2 separate regions of the Homo sapiens genome follow, and region 1 is linked to region 2. The links come from fine-mapping of genetic effects on gene expression. A gene starts in region 2. The other region holds a variant in brackets. All regions are shown on one strand. Distances are from middle to middle.

The links. PIP is the estimated chance that this variant, and not a neighbour inherited with it, causes the effect.
Region 1: its variant is fine-mapped to the expression of LRRC37B in lymphoblastoid cells (GTEx, PIP above 0.99). The same link has a PIP of 0.9 or more in whole blood.

The regions. Positions count from the first base shown.
Region 1 is chr17:32,078,351-32,081,254 of GRCh38, reverse strand. No RefSeq gene overlaps it. Among named protein-coding and RNA genes, the nearest start is that of VILMIR, 3.2 kb to the left of the region's middle. The variant G/A (reference allele first, on the strand shown) is at 1,348.
Region 2 is chr17:32,005,866-32,008,769 of GRCh38, reverse strand. LRRC37B (leucine rich repeat containing 37B) reads right to left here and starts at 1,387. Exons shown (of 15, transcript NM_001321350.2): 1 at 638-1,387. LOC124903972 reads left to right here and starts at 1,063. Exons shown (of 4, transcript XM_047437248.1): 1 at 1,063-1,394; 2 at 2,065-2,163. The coding sequence starts at 1,063. RefSeq lists silencers at 982-1,331, 1,372-1,421 and an enhancer at 1,464-2,386.

The DNA.
Region 1 (2,904 bases), 72 kb before region 2:
GCCCTTGTCTTCATTAAAAAAAAAAAAAAAAAAAAAAAAGATTAGGCTGGGTGCAGTGGCTCACGCCTGTAATCCCAGCACTTTGGGAGGCCAAGGTGAGCAGATCACTTGAGGTCATGAGTTCGAGACTTGCCTTGAAAACATGGTGAAGCCCCGTTTCTACTAAAAATATAAAAATTAGCCAGGTTAGGCCAGGGACGGTGGCTTACGCCTGTAATCCCAGCACTTTGGAGGCCGAGGTGGGCGGATTATAAGGTCAGGAGTTTGAGACCAGCCAATATGGTGAAACCCCGTCTCTACTAAAAATACAAAAATTAGTCAGGTGTGGTGGGTGCCTGCCTGTAGTCCCAGCTACTCAGGAAGCTGAGGCAGAAGAATTGCTTGAACCTGGGAAGCAGAGGTTCCAGTGAGCTGAGATCGCGCCATTGCACTCCAGCCTGGGACACAGAGGAAAACTCCGTCTCAAAAAGAAAAAAAAATTAGCCAGGCATTGTGGAGGGTACCTGTAATCGCAACTCCTCAGGAGGCTGAGGCAGGAGAATCACTTGAACCTGGGAGGTGGAGGTTGCAGTGAGCCGAGGTCACACCACTCCACTACAGCCTGGGTGACAGAGCGAGACTCCATCTCAAAATAATAATCATAATAATAATGAAAAGAAATGATGCTGGATGCAGTGGCTCATGCCTATAATCCCAACACTTTGGGAGGCCAAAGCAGGAGGATCACTTGAAGCCAGGAGTTTGAGACCAGCCTGGGCAATGTAGCAGGACCCTATCTCTACAAAAACATATATATTTTAAAAATTAGCCAGGTGTGGTGGTGCATGTCTGTAGTCCCAGCTACTCGCATGGCTGAGGCAGGAGGATCACCTCAGTCCAGTAATTTGAGGCTGCAGTAAGGTGTGGTCATGCCACTGGACTCCAGCCTGGGCAATAGAGCAAGACCCTATCGCAAAATAAAAGAATAAAATATACAATAAAAATAAAACAGAGCAAAGAGAATGTCCCCTAGAGCCATGTGTGATCCATACGCTTTGTGAATCCTGACACCTCCTCTCCTTCGAGGTTGTACAACTGTCTTCCAAAGTTGGAAAAAAAATGTTTAAACCTGCCCAGATTCAGGAGGGAGGTCCCAGGGGTACCAGTGCCCTCCCCCATTTCCCAAGGACAACAAGGGTTTCCAGCCTCACTTGGCCTTGGGGTGTGCGCAGCTCGGTGTGAGGGCCAGTGGTTGATCTTGAAGTTTCTTTCCTACTCCCTCATCCGTTTCCTGCCCAAGCTGTGGTTCCAGCTGACTCCCCTATCAGAGGCTGCGAGTGAGTTCAGTTGTTATGGCAACGGGGCTGC[G/A]GAGATCCCCAGGAACCTGCTGGTCCGCCTCATTGCCTCACCGTATGGGGAGCTGCTTTTCCCCTTAAAAATGAAACGGGAGTGGGATGGGGGAGGAACCCCCTTCTTCTGCTCTGGAATGAAATGCCTCCCTCACCTGCTTTGTCGCAAACCCCCGGTTTGGAGAGGAGGGTCTGGATGGGACCCAGACTGTGGATAAGGATGGAGGGAGGAGAACTCCTGCTCCCTGGGTTTTAGCAGCCTTCCCAGGTCTCACAGAACACGAGGAACACGGTCTTTCTCCAGCTCCAACTTTTCTCATCTGTTCATTCATTTTTTCCACAGGAGGCATGAGGAGGTGAGAGATGGAAAGAATGCTGTCTGTCATTTGGAGTCAGAAGGAAAAGAAGGTTGAGGGTCTGCCAGCTCTGCTCTAGTGGTTTTTTCCTGTTTCACCTTTTACAAAATCGAGATAATCGTTTCTACTTGGTAGCGATATTGTGAGGTGTAAAATGGATTAATACATGCAAAATGCTTAAAGCAACTTCTGGCATACGGTGATCTCTCAACCAATCCATTGTTATTTTATTATTATTATTTTTTTGAGACAGAGTTTTGCTCTTGTTACCCAGGCTGGAGTGCAATGGTGTGATCTCGGCTCACTGCAACCTCTGTTTCCCGGATTCAAGCGATTTTCCTCCTCCTGAGTAGCTGAGATTACAGGTGCCCACCACCACACCCAGCTAATTTTTTGTTTTCTTTTGTTTTTTGTTTTTTTTTTTTGAGACAGAGTCTCACTCTGTTGCCCAGGCTGGAGTGCAGTGGCACGATCTCGGCTCACTGCAAGCTCTGCCTCCCGGGTTCACACCATTCTCCTGCCTCAGCCTCCCCAGTAGCTGGGACTACAGGCGCCCGCCACCACGCCTGGCTAATTTTTTGTATTTTTAGTAGAGATGGGGTTTCACCATGTTAGCCAGGATGGTCTCCATCTCCTGACCTCGTGATCCACCCACCTTGGCCTCCCAAAGTGCTGGGATTACAGGCGTGAGCCACCGCGCCTGGCCAATTTTTTGTATTTTTAGTAGAGATAAGGTTTCACCGTGTCAGCCAGGCTGGTCTCAAACTCCTGACCTCAGGTGATCCACCCGCCTCAGCCTCCCAAAGTGCTGGAATTACAGGTGTGAACCACCGTGCCCAGCAGGGAGACCCTGTTTCTACAAGAAAAAATTTACTGTGATCCCAGCACATTGGAAGGCCAAGGTGGGAGGATCACTTGAGCCTAGGAGTTCAAGTCCAGCCTGGGCAACATACATAGGGAGAACCCATCTCTTAAAAAAAGAAAAAAAGGAGAAATAATTACATGTAACCCTACCAGCAGTTTTGTGGGATTGCTATGATCATACCCATTTCACAGATTAGGTAACTGAGGTTTTAGTGCCCTGGAGATGAAGGCATTCTCTAGTCTCCCAGAAGCCCTGAACTCTTGAACAACCCCAAATGCTAAACTCAGCAGTAAAATGGCTGGTGGCTCCTACCTGAGGGTTCACAGAGGGGCTGCCTGTGCTTGCCTCCCAGCCC
Region 2 (2,904 bases):
TTGCACTAGCCCGTCAGCACTCGAAGAATAAAAACAAACACACAGGACCAGGTAAAGTTCCCCTACTAACCAAAATGATCCGTTTCCTTAACACAATTTAAAAACCACAGCTAGGGGTGTGAACACAGGCATGTTTTTCTGTGTGTCTGTGTGCCACAATCTGTACAAATCCTTAATTCCCTTTTAAGGAACAGATATATAATGAAAATCCGAAAGGAAACACATTAGAAATGCAAAGAGGTTTGCAAAACAAGAGGCTTCTTTCATTCCAGAAAACCACACCAAAACAAGGGGAGAAAAATGAATGCAATGGATATGTGTTTGCCAAAGTTTCAATCCTGCCCGGTGGAGACACTGCACTGGCACAAATTTTGAGGAGAAAAAAAGGGAGTTGGGGGGACGGGGAGCAAGCGAGTGCGGCCTGCAACAATGCAATCTCCATTTTGAACAATGTGCTTCTTTCCTCTTATAAATCTAGTTTTTTGCCACTTGATGTGCCCTCCCATTTCCCCTCTAAAGTTTAGGGGTCGGCGGGGTTGGCGGGAGATCGGAGCGGGATGCACAGCACATAAGTGAGCAAGGGGGGAGGGGAGAGGAGGTGGGGAATGAGTCTGCAGCAACTGCGCTGGGTGGGTACCTGGAGTGCTGCTGAAGCTGCTTTCCGTGGAGTAACTGGCGTCCTCGTCGTCATCTTCCAGCTCCTCCGGATAATCGGAGTCATCGTCGTCCTCCTCCATGTCATCCTCCTAGTTGTCCTCAGACTCCTGGGTCTCCTCGGCATCGCCGCCCCCCTCCTCTTACTCCTCCTCCTCGCTCTCGTAGTCATCATACACCACTCTGTTGACAGCCCTCCGGGCTGCGGTGGTCCGGGCTAGGTGGCTGCCCCCGCGCCCCCGCCGGGCCCGTGCGCTGGTGCCGGCGCGGGGCGGGCCGGCGGCGGTGGCTTCCTCCGGCTACTGCTGCCCACCCTGGGCGAGCTCAGCCGCGTCTTGGGCGCCACCTCAGCCTGGCGGCTGCCCACCTGCCCCGGCTACTACCGCGTATCGGCGAGGGGAGCCCCCGATGGGTCCGGACGTGGGCGGCGGCGGCGGCGGGGCCGGGGCGCAGCGCTCCGCAGCGGGAGCCGCGGGCTGCTTGGTCGGCCTGCCCCGCCGGCCCCTCTTGTTGGAGCCCAGGCGGCGGGAGAAGGGAAAGCTGACGGGGAGGGCCGGGCGCAGTGGCGGCGGTGGGGAGCGCCGGGGCCGGGTTGGGAGGCCCGAGGGGCTGGGCGGGAGGGGCCCGGCCGGCGGAAGCGAGTGGAGGGAGAAGGCTCAACCGAATTGCTGGGGCCCCACTCAAGATCGCCTTCAACCGCCACCTTGTTTCTTCCCTCTACAGGAGCGCGGTCACGTGAGGTGCGCCGCCGCCCAGCCTGGGAAGGGGGCGAGGTGGCGCGGCGGCCGCTAGGGGGAGCGCGGGAGCATTGAGTCGGGGGCGGAGAGCTCGGGGCGCCTGGACTTGGCGCAGCACGGCGCTCCGGGTGCGGGTGGCGCGGCTGAAAGAGGCCCGCAGCTCCTGACAAGCCCCGCGTCTAAGGCCTTCGGAGACCACAGTCTCCGCGGACCCCTGGCTGGAGCCCAAAGCCTGCCGGGTCTCCTTCCCGCGACTCCCCTTCCGCGGCTCGGAGAGGAAGGCAGGAGAGCCCCCAAATATCGTTCCCCTCCCGCCCTCTAGGGAAACTGAGGCTGAAAGAGGCAGCGAGAGAAAGAAAAAAAAAGTCGCGGAGGGGGGCGGCCCGAGCGACCTAAGGGACGGGGCAGCGCCAGCGACCGAGGAAAATTAGTCGGGGTGGGGTACAGGGAGACAAGCCCCCAGAATTTAGGAAACTCCGAAGCTTGGAAGTGGAGTCCTGAATTGACTCCGATGACAACTGCTCCGGATCTGTGCCAGGAGCCACACCCCGGGCTGCCACGCCTGGAGGGAGGGGGGTCCCTAAGACCTGTTGCATGGGATCCCCACTCGGAAAGCCTCAGTAAACTCCAGAATGCAACTACTGCATGTTCCAATCTCCCGCCACCTTCCCAGTGTCCCAGCTAGGAGCCTGACCACCTTAGCAAGAACTTACCTCTCCTTTGCAGTGGAAAAGAGGGAATCCTGCCTAAAACCTACTTCACGGTGTTACAGGTCTGTATTATCGGGAAATAACCTTAATTTATTTACCTGACAAATCACTAGGTTTGAGCTCAGCCCAGGGGACGAATCATGGTGACAGTTCAGGCACCCTCAAACCTTATCACAGGGACTCAACCCTGAGTGGTTGAGGTCAGTTCTTCAGATAAGAGAAAGGTTTGCCGGGCACAGTGGCTGACGCCTGTAATCCCAGCACTTTGGGAGGCCGAGGCGGGCGGATCACAAGGTCAGGAGTTCGAGACCATCCTGGCTAGCACAGTGAAACCCCATCTCTACTAAAAATACAAAAAAAATTAGCCGGGCGTAGGTGGTGCACGCCTGTAGTCCCAGCTACTCGGGAGGCTGAGGCAGGAGAATGGCGTAAAATCCGGGAGGCGGAGGTTGCAGTGAACCGAGATCGCGCCACTGCACTCCAGCCTGGGAGACAGAGCGAGACTCCGTCTCAAAAAAAAAAAAAAAAAAAAAAAAAAAAAAAGAAAAAGAAAGGTTTCGTAAACATATGTTAATATTTATTGAGATAAGTGACAACCAAAAAGTAATTTAAACAAAAATACTTGGCCGGGCGCGATAGCTCATGCCTGCAATCCCAGCCCTTTGAGAAGCCAAAGCCGGACGATTGCTTGAGGTCAAGAGTTTGAGACTAGCCTGGGCAACATAGCAGGACCTCGTCTCTAGAAAAAAATTGAAAAATTAGCCGGGCATGGTGGTGCGCACCTGTGGTCCCAGCTACGCCAG